Regions from separate parts of the Homo sapiens genome. Here region 1 is linked to region 2. A link means that fine-mapping ties the variant in region 2 to the expression of a gene that starts in the linked region. Tissue or cell type: skeletal muscle. Region 2 holds a variant in brackets; the other region holds the start of a gene. All regions are shown on one strand. Distances are between the middles of the regions.

Region 1 (5,322 bases), 39 kb after region 2:
GAGTCCAGGAGTTCAAGACCAGCCTGGACAACAAGGCGAGACCTCATCTCCAGAAAAAGTAAAAAATTAGCCAGGCGTGGTGGCACACACCTGTAGTCCCAGCTACTCAGGAGGCTGAGGCAGGAGGATTGCTTGAGCAAGGGAGGTTGAGGCTGCAGTGAGCCATGATCATGCCACTGCACTCCATCCTGAGCAACAGAACAAGACCCTGTCTAAAAAAGAAAAGAAAGAACATGGAAACGACTACCGTGAGAAGTTCTAAGTTGTCTGTTATTCAGAATGTCCCCGAATAAGTTGATTAATAACTTTAAAAGCATTTGAATGGAGAGGGGATTTGGACTAAATCAGAAGTTTTCAAATTTCTTATAGCTAGGAAACCCTTTCCTTTAAATAAAGCTCAGTTACAAAACATATCAATGTGAAGCTATTTTGGTTGAAGTCTAAGTAGAATCCTTTTCTTATTATTTTTCTTCTCAACTAGATTCTGGAAAGTTGACAATAAAAGCTAATAGTTTTTATAATTTATATTTACAATGTATATCCCCCAAGGTGTATTACATGAGGTTTGATAAATATTTACTGAATGAATGAATGAACAGTTAAATATGTCAAATGTTATTTCTCTGGGGCATGCTTTCATTTTTAATAGACAGCAATCTTTTAACCAAAAGTCGAATTCCTCAAGTGAGTTCTGTTATCCTGGAGGTCCACAGATCCCTAAGGGGGGTATGTGAATGGGTCTTAAGAGTTGTGGGAACCTATTCAAATTGTATTGCCAAATTTGGGAGCATATGTATTTTTCTGGTAAGAGCAGCTATAGCTTTTGTCAGATTTTCAGAAGGGTCTATAACTCCCAAAAGTTAAGAAACAACCACTTAATTTAATTCAATTCAATTTAATTTTTTTGAGGCAGGGTCTCACTCTGTCACCCAGGCTGGAGTGCAGTGGCGCAATCTCAGCTCACTGCAGCTTCAACCTCCCTAGCTCATCCTCCCACCTCAGCCTCCCAAGTAGCTGGGACTACAGGCATGCACCACCATGCCTGGCTAATTTTTATTTTTTTGTAGAGACAAGGTTGCACTCTATTGCCCAGGCTGGTCTCTTACTCTTGGGCTCAAGTGATCCTCCTGCCTCGGCCTCCCAAAGTACTGGGATTACAGGTGTGAGCTGCTGCACCCAGCCAAGAAACAACTGCTTTAATGGAAGAATTGTAGGTATCTACCACAGCCTAATGAAATATGTATTTGGAGGCAGGAAGGTCTTTTGGACACTTCCCCCAAATCATGTAGCTGGATGTTCTCTTGATTGCAGAGAATAACTGAGGGGACAGACCTCAGGCTTTCCTGAATACACCGTACCCCCAGAGGATGGGAAGGTAATGGGGTTCCGTGATAATTGGAGAGGCTTTGTGTCTGTGCCCTGTGTATGCATACTCAGGCTCTCAAAATCAGTGACCATTTAAGTGGACAGACCTTAGTACATGAAAACAAAGTATTCACTCCAGGACTTTAGGCAACTCTCACCAGCCAAAAACCATTTTCCCAGCCCCTACCCAAAAAGGGCCAGACAGTCTGGAGACCCTTGTTTTTGTGTCTCTAATCACCAGCTCAGACAGTGCCCTCTGGGCTGTTTGGATGGCATATCCCTTTTCCCTCCCAGGATCACTCTCTCTTTTGTTGCATTGTGAGAAAATTATGGCTAGGAATTTGATCTGGAGCCAGAGTCAGCTTCCGGGTGTGATCTCAGCATCCAAGTGCGAGCTCAGGGTCCTATGACGTTGGGCACATCAAACTGAGGAGCTTTTTGTCTAGCTGGCTGTGACCTCCTCCCTCCCTCCCCATCCCAGCTTCCCGGCCACAGAATAGGGAGCAGTACAAACAAGGCCCTGAGATTTGGGTTTATTCAGCTCCACCCAAAACTAAACCAAGGCTATGACATGTCCCATGGGACCAAACCATACATTGTGGACCATGCACCTTTCCCTTCCCCCAAGGATGCTGCTACCTCTGGAGTGGTGGGCAGCTGCCCATATCACCTTGGGAGGTAGAGAGGGATTTGCTGGGTGCTGGGTCTGTGGCAATCAGGGCTCAACTATGGCTGCCTCCTCCTCTTCCTCTGGATCAGGAGGCGCAGGGAGCAGGGAGATGTAGACCTCATTGACCTCTGTGTCCAAATGTCGGCCACCCCGAGGTGCTTCCAGGTTTAAGATGCCATCATGGGAGAGAGCAGCTCGGACTCGCCAGGGGTCGACATCAGCAGGCAGGACATAGGTGCGGCAGAACTCTCGGGACACGAAGCCGTGGCGGTCCAGGCGCTGGGGGTGCCGGGCAGACACCTCCAGCAGGTTATCCACAGTCCTCACAGTCACCTCGTCTGGGGTAAAGTGGCTCACATCCAGAAATGCCTGGAACTTGCCCTCACTGAGCCTAAGCTCGGAGGCCCCTGCCCTGCTGCCCTCCCCAGCTGGGGCGGCCCGAGGCCGGACATAGTAGCCATGGTAGAGTGTGGGGGTCAGGATCTCTTCTGGCAGGAGGCCTAAAGGGCAGAGAGAAGGCAAGAGGCAGGATGAGGGAGGATGAGGCTGGCACAGGGGCGAAATGGGAAATCTGGAGAGGAGGGATTGGGAAGAGCAAGAGGGGAGTCAGGAGGAGTAGGGAACGGGAGGGAGGCCACACTGTAGCTAGGAGGAGAAGGCAGCTCGGAAGAGGGGAAAGAGAACGGAAAGGAAAGGGAGGAGGAGGAGGAGAAGGAGGAGGAGGGGGAGGAGGAGGAGGCACCAAACGGCCTGGGTGGATAGAAGGGGGACAAGGAGGCACACCCAGGCCGGCAAAGAGCAGGTATCAGCACTGCAAGCACCAAGTGTGTCTTGAGGTCAGCAGGAATGGGAAAGATCTCTGCTTGGAGGGGATGAGGGGTAGTCTGGGGTGGGGGGTGGCTGGTCCCAGGAGATCAGTTAAGCCCAGAGTGGGGTGGAGGCCAGCAACGTTGGGAGGTCAGCCCAGAATTTCAGGGGGTGGGGGTGGGGGGCAAGGGGGTGGTGTCTGTGCCATACCTTCTCCGAAGCGCTGCTCACCCAGGCGGCTCGGGTTGGCAAATTCGTACTCGGCGGTGGCCGGGTGGGCATGTGGCACTGAGCGGCCCGACATGGCTGCAGATGCAGCAGAAGCCCTGGTCCGAGGTGCAGCCCCAACAGGCGCAGCGCGACCCCTCCAGCTGCCCGGAGAGCCAGGGCTCGATAGGAGGTGGGGGCGGGGTCGACACCACCCAAAATAGTGCCGAGCCTCTTGGGGGGGGAGGGGCTGGGAGTGGGGGCCCTGAGTGAGAGCAACGAGGGTGTGACCAGCGCCGCCCGGACCCCTAGTCCCCTCCCCCGCACACTCTTCAGCTGTCGCAGGGGGCCTGAGAGGACAGCTGAGGGTCCTGGCTGGGAACGAGCTGGGGAGGGGGAGCTGGTGGTGCCTGGGGCATGAAGAGGCCTCGCTGAGACCCTCACAAACGGTTTGCACGTTTCCACACCTCATTTTCTCCTCTTCGGTGGCAGGCACTGTGCACCCAATTCCTAAAGCACTCCTGGATTTAATGTTCTGAGAGCCACATAGAACGAAAGATGCAAGAAATCTGTTTGCTCTTTTTTCAGGGGGTGGGGTCTTTCTGCCCAGATGTGGGATCCTCTCCTAAACCCAGGTCAACCCAGGGCACGAGGCAGATGGCTGGTGCTGACATGTTGACCATCACTGCTCTCTTCCAAGGACTCACAAAGAGTTAATGTCCCTGGGGCTCAGCCTAGGAAGATTCCAGTCCCTGCCCAGGCCCAAGATAGTTGCTGGCCTGATTCCCCTGGCATTCAGGACTGGAAAGGAGGAGGAGGGGCACACTACGCCGGCTCCCATCCTCCCCCCACCCCGCGTGCCTGCTTGGGATTCCTGACTCTGTACCAGCTTCAGAGAACAGGGGTGGGGGTGGGTGCCATTGGGTGTGGACAGAAAGCTAGTGAAACAAGACCATGACAAGTCACTGGCCGGCTCAGACGTGTTTGTGTCTCTCTTTTCTTAGCTCAGTGAGTACTGGGTATGTGTCACATTGCCAAATCCCGGATCACAAGTCTCCATGAACTGCTGGTGAGCTAGGATAATAAAACCCCTGACATCACCATTCCAGAAGCTTCACAAGACTGCATATATAAGGGGCTGGCTGTAGCTGCAGCTGAAGGAGCTGACCAGCCAGCTGACCCCTCACACTCACCTAGCCACCATGGACATCGCCATCCACCACCCCTGGATCCGCCGCCCCTTCTTTCCTTTCCACTCCCCCAGCCGCCTCTTTGACCAGTTCTTCGGAGAGCACCTGTTGGAGTCTGATCTTTTCCCGACGTCTACTTCCCTGAGTCCCTTCTACCTTCGGCCACCCTCCTTCCTGCGGGCACCCAGCTGGTTTGACACTGGACTCTCAGAGGTGAGTCTCCCCACAGCTAGGACGGGAGAGTCCTTACTGGAACCTCCTGGAAACTTCTCCATCCATTTTCCTTTCCTACCCTGCCTAAACCATTTTAGGCACATGTGTGTCCAAATGTGAAGAAAAATGAGGAGGTTGCTAGTGCCTTCCTCCCCCATCACCTGTTTCTATTTGATAGTCCTCTGTATCCCATTTATTACATTTTTTCATGCACTGTCAAGTTTATCCTCCGTCCCCTAACTTCTCTACAGGATACCCCTTTCTGGTTTGGTTCATGACAATCTGCAGGGAAAGAGCTGCCTTCAAACTCCTTTGCTTATCTCTTCCAACACCTTGGACTCTTGACCGATTTTACCATCTCAGGTTTCAGAGCCAGGAGAGAGCCCTGCCTCATCCTGAGCTGTTCATCCCCATGGGTATTTTCTGCCTTTCTATTCCCTCTTCTATGATTTTCTGGGTTTCTCAGGGCTACGACAGGGCGCTGGCCTGGGTCCAATCAAGCCCTACGAGGAAACAATATAGGGACGCCCATTTGTCCTAAGAGGGTGGAAGAACAGGGTGAACAAATAAGGTTGACAGAGCTGTCACAGATAACACTCTGGTTTAAAAATATTCAAGTGTGAGTAAACAGGAGCTGAGTGGGCAAGGGCTTTGGAAGGACAAGCAGGACCAGCAGAACATTCCAGATTGGGTGGGTGGAAAACTGGCAAAGAGACCTGAGCCAGAAGAAGAGGCCTTTGTCTCACAGACAAACCACAAAGCCAGGCATTGGAGTCAGAGAGGCAGCAGATGCCAGGCTTGCACCCATCCTTGCGACTGGTCCCCTGGGTGATCTGTCTTCTTCTCTGTCCCTGTAAATAAAGTTTGGGT
Region 2 (5,378 bases):
TCCATAGAGGACTGGTTCCAGGAACTCCTTTGGATACCAAATCCATATATGCTCAACTGTCTGATATAAAATGGCATAGTATTTGCATATAACCTAAGCACCCTTTTAAATCATCTCTAGATTACTTGTAATAGCTAATACAATGTAATGTTATGTAAATAGTTATTAAGCTGTAATAGTTTAGGACAGGCATCTGGTCCATGGCCTGTTAGCAACCGGGCCACAGAGTGAAGCTTCATCTGTATTTACAGCTGCTCCCCATTGCTCACATTACCACCTGACCTCCGCCTCACTTCAGATCAGCGGTGGGATTAGATTCTCATGGGAATGGGAACCCTATTGTGAACTGTGCATGTGAGGAATCTAGGTTGCACCCTCCTTATGAGAATCTAATGACTGATGATCTGTCACTGTCTCCCATTACCCCGAGATAGGACCATCTGGTTGCAGGAAAACAAGCTCAGGGCTCCCACTGATTCTACATTATGGTAAGTTGTATAATTATTTCATTATATATTACAATGTAATAATACAAAAATAAAGTGCACAATAAATGTAATGTGTGTGAATCACCTCAAAACCATCCCCCACCTGGTCCATGGAAAAACTGTCTTCCATGAAACCGGTCCCTGGTGCCAGAAAGGTTGGGGACCTCTGGTTTAGGGAATAATGACAAAAAAAAAAAGTCTGTAGCTACTCAGTACAGACGCGTTTCTTTTGTCAAATATTTCTGATCTGCAGTTTGTTGAATCCACAGATGCTGAAGCCATGGATACAGAACGCATGGATAGAGACAGCTTACTGTACAATACTTTTTGTCTTTAGCCTTACAGTACACAGCCAAAATACTGCTTCCAAAGTTACTTGGGTTAGTTCTTTCCTTTTCCACTCCTTCCACTGTGGTTATATTATTCATTTATAATACAGTTAGGTTCATCTGTTACTCTTTGTAGTTCATTTTTGGTTAGCCCCAAATTCTGGTTGATTTTATTTATTGATTGATTGATATGGAGTATCGCTCTGTCTCCAAGCTGGAGTGCAATGGTGTGATCTTGGCTCACTACAACCTCCACCTCCCGGGTTCAAGCAATTCTCCTGCCTCAGCCTCCTGAGTAGCTGGGATTACAGGCACGTGCCACCATGCCTGGCTAATTTTTTATATTTTTAGTAGAGACGGGGTTTCACCATGTTGGCCAGGCTGGTCTCAAACTCCTGACCTCAGGTGATCCGCCCACCTCGGCCTCCCAAAGTGCTGGGATTACAGGAGTGAGCCACTGTGCCCGGCCTGGTTGATTTTAATTATTTATTTTTTGGATAGATGAAAAATTAATAAGGTCCTGAAAGAGCTATTCAAAAACATAAAAAGTGTCACTCCCACATCATTCTTTCCACCGCATTCCCATGTACCTCTCCGCACCCTATCCCACATAACCAAGCTCATTAGTTTCCAGTTTATATGGAAAATAACAGATACATGTATGTTCCTTTATTTCTCTTTCTTTCTTTTGTGAAAAACCTGATAGTATTGATACTAATTTGTACTTTTCTTTCTAACTTCACTTCATTTGATTCACTTGATTTAATTCTGAAAATCACTCCAAAGTGGTTTATAGAAATCTGCCCCATTTGTTTTTTCTTTGTTTGGTTTTTGGAGACAGGGTCTTGCTCTGTTGCCCAGGCTGGAGTTCAGTGGCATGATCACAGCTCACTGCAGCCTCAACCTCCCAAGTTCAATCCATCCTCTAGTCCCATCCTCCAGAGTAGCTAAGGCCATAGTCACACGCCACCACAGCTAATTTTTGGATTTTTTTTTTTTTTTTTGAGACAAAGTCTCACGCTGTCACCCAGGCTGGAGTGTAGTGGTGTGATCTCGGCTCATTGCAACCACCGCCTCCTGGGTTCAAGCAATTCTCCTGCCTCGGCCTCCTAAGTAGCTGGGATTACAGGCACGCACCACCACAGCCGGCTAACTTTGTATTTTTAGTACAAATGGGGTTTCACCATGTTGGTCAGGCTGGTCTCGAACTCCTCACCTCATGATCTGCCTGACTTGGTCTCCCAAAGTGCTGGGATTACAGGTGTGAGCCACCAGGCCTGGCCAATTTTTGGATTTTTTTGTAGAGACAGGGTCTCACTTTGTTGCTCAGGCTAGAACTTCTGGCCTCACCTTCCTCCCACCTTGGCCTCCCAAAGTCTGGGATTACAGGTAAACTACTGCCTGTAAACCATTGCCTTAGTGTTTTCTTGACTGTTCTTGTGTATTTATTTCACCATATGAACTTTAGTGTCAATTTGTCTAACTTCCTAAAAAAGCTTCTTGGAATTTTTACTGGGATTGTATTAAACTTATAAATTAATTTAGAGAAAATTGACATATTTATGATGTTGAATCATCCTACTCAAGAACATTGTATTAGTCTGTGTTCACGCTGCTGATAAAGACATACCCGAGACTGGGAAGAAAAAGAGATTTTAAGACGGGCATGGTGGCTCATGCCTATAATCCCAGCACTTTGGGAGGCTGAGGCGGGCAGATCACTTGAGGTCAGGAGTTCAAGACCAGCCTGCCCAACATGGTGAAACCCCATCTGTACTAAAAATACAAAAATTAGCCAGGTGTGGTGGCACACACTTGTAATCCCATCTTCTCAGGAGGCTGAGGTAGGAGAACCGCTTGAACCTAGGAGGTGGAAATCGCAGCAAGCCAAGATCATGCTACTATACTCCAACCTGGGTGACAGAGTGAGACTCCATCACAAAAAAAAAAAAAA[G/AG]TTTTAATGGACTTATAGTTCCACATCACTAAGGAAGCCTCACAATCATGGCAGAAGGCAAGGAGGAGCAAGTCACATTTTACATGGATGGCAGCAGACAAAAAGAGAGACAGAGTTTGTGCAGGGAAACTCTGCCTCATAAGCCATCAGATATCGTGAGGTTTATTCACTATCATGAGAACAGCATAGGAAAGACCTGCCCCCATGATTCAATTACCTCCCATTGGGTCCCACAACACGTGGGAATTCAAGAAGAGATTTGGGTGGGGACATAGCCAAACTATATGATTTTGGGGCCCCTGGCCACTCCCAAATCTCATGGATATTCATAAATAATATTAGTCTGTAGTTTTTTTTTGCACCATCTCTATAATGTTTAGATATAAATATTACATTTCATAAAAACTTTTAGGAAAGTCTTCATTTTCTTTTTTTAATTTTTGATTTTTATAGGTATACAGTAGGTGTACATATTTATGGGTTTTCCTTCATTGTCAATGCTCTGAAATAATTTACACAACATTGTGTCCATCTGATATTTGAAGGTTTAGTAGAATTACCCATGAGATAATCTGGGCCTGTACTTTTTTGAGGAATAATTCCTTAATAGGGTTCTCTAATTCTTCTATAGAAATTGGTTTGTTTAAACTTCCATTTTCTATCAATTTTGGTAATCAGTATTTACCTAAGAAATTATCCATTTCATCAAAGTTTTTGAATGTATTTGCACAGAGGACTGCAAAGTCTGTTGTAATTACTTTTTCTGTTTCAGTGGCTATTTTTCTATTGTCATTTCTTATTTTGTGTATTTGTATTTCTCCCTTTTTTTTCTTATTTATGCTAGCTAGTAGTTTGTCTATTTTGGTAATTTATTTTAAAAAACCTTAAAAGCAAACTGGTTTGAAGAATTACTGCTATTCCACAGAAGGGTGACTATAGGCAGCAATAATATTGTACATTTTAAAGTAACTAAAAGTATAATTAGGTTATTTGTAACACAAAGAAAGGATAAATGTTTGTGGTGATGGATACCCCATTTACACTGATATGATTATTATACATCATAAGCCTATATCACAATACCTCATGTACCCCATAAATATATACACCTACTGGTTGGGCACAGTGGCTCACGCCTATGATCCCAGCACTTTGGGAGGCTGAGGCAGGTGGATAAGCTGAGGTCAGGAGTTCAAGACCAGTCTGGCCAACATGGTGAAACCCTGTCTCTACTAAAAATACAAAAATTAGCTGGGCATGGTGGCACACGCCTGTAATCCCAGCTACTCGGGAGGCTGAGGCAGGAGAATCGCTTGAACCTGAGAGGCAGAGGTTGCAGTGAGCCAAGATCATGCCATTGCACTCCAGCCTGGGCGACAAGAGTGAAACTCTGTCTCAAAAAAAAAAAAAAAAAAAAAAAAAAAAAAAAAATATATATATATATATATATATATATATACCTACTTTGTACCCACAAAAATAAAAAAAAATAAAATAAGAAATATTGCTATTCAATCTAAGTCTCTCTAAAACTGTAATACCTAGAACCAAGCACAACACTCTAGGTATAAAACCAGATACTCAGCTTCTTCATTCAAGATATTTCATATTCTTTTCTTTTTCTTTTTTTGGGTCACATTGGTGACTCATACTAAACTGTCAACCAAAACCCCTAAATAATTTTTAACACATTTTGCTGTTAAACCATATCCCTTCCATCTTTGAGCTTGTAAAATTGGTTTTCTTGATCCACATTTGCCTTTAATAAATTTCACCTTGCTAGATTGTGTCTCAAGAGATCCTGTCATTCCATGCATTCATTTATTCAAGTCAACATATTCTTGAGTCCCTACTATCTGCCAGGCATTGTGCCAAGGTCAGTGCTTACAGGCACATAAATAACGGACACAAAGTGATTGCTGCTACAAGAGAGAAACGTTTAAAAAAAAAAGCTATTTATGCAGAGAAGGAGCAACAGGATGGAAGGCTGGAGGAATCAGGAAAAGGTCAACAGGGAAGGAGACATCTGGCTGGTTCTTTACGGATGTCTGCCAATTGCAGAGAGGACAAGGGCAGAGGTGATGGAAGGAGGAAGGGTCAGAAGACACATACTATCTTAGAGGAACAGCCAGTTGAGGGGGTAGCGTGTGGGCGGAGCAGGTGATAATGTTGGAGAAACAGGTCTGCCCACGACCACCAGCACTTAGACTAAGGCTTAATGACCTTCAACAGGAAGTGTGAAGTTGTGAAACAGGAGAGTGAAACTGTGTGACTGGCATCTTGGAATAGAAAGAACAGCATACAGATTGAAGAAGCCAACGAGGAGCCCAGGCAATAATTCAAGCAAGAGAAGATAAGCACCTAAACTGAAGCAGCACCAGTGAGCAAAGGACAAACTCCAGAAACAAGCCAGAGATGACTGATAGGATGTAGGGAGCGACAAAAAGAGGGTCCAAAATGTTGGACCCGAATGACTGGCTGGCTGGTGATGCTTTAACTGGGATGGAGAAGACATGAAGAACAAGCACTGGGAAAAGTCAATGGCTCGGTTTTGAGAGAGTCTGAGCTATTTGTAGAACACCAGAGTATAGATGTTCCACAGCCAGT

Direction of the effects. Positions count from the first base shown, and alleles are read on the strand shown. Sizes are in standard deviations (SD) of each study's normalised expression.
For the expression in skeletal muscle of the gene that starts at base 3,242 in region 1, G is the high allele of the variant in region 2 and AG is the other (large effect, 1.1 SD a copy in FUSION).

What was found. PIP is the estimated chance that this variant, and not a neighbour inherited with it, causes the effect. A credible set is the group of variants that fine-mapping cannot tell apart.
Region 1: it holds the start of HSPB2, and the variant in region 2 is the best candidate, but not a certain one, in a credible set for the expression of HSPB2 in skeletal muscle (FUSION, PIP 0.63).

What each region holds. Positions count from the first base shown.
Region 1 is chr11:111,910,654-111,915,975 of GRCh38, reverse strand. HSPB2 (heat shock protein family B (small) member 2) reads right to left here and starts at 3,242. Exons shown (of 2, transcript NM_001541.4): 1 at 3,053-3,242; 2 at 1,883-2,535. The coding sequence starts at 3,146. The coding sequence ends at 2,081. It overlaps CRYAB (crystallin alpha B), which reads left to right and starts at 4,206. Exons shown (of 3, transcript NM_001289808.2): 1 at 4,206-4,452. The coding sequence starts at 4,252. HSPB2-C11orf52 (HSPB2-C11orf52 readthrough (NMD candidate)) reads right to left here and starts at 3,240. Exons shown (of 5, transcript NR_037651.1): 1 at 3,053-3,240. RefSeq lists an enhancer at 1,838-2,491.
Region 2 is chr11:111,949,263-111,954,640 of GRCh38, reverse strand. All of the region lies in intron 1 of DIXDC1 (DIX domain containing 1), which reads right to left. Among named protein-coding and RNA genes, the nearest start is that of DIXDC1, 15 kb to the right of the region's middle. The variant G/AG (reference allele first, on the strand shown) is at 2,772.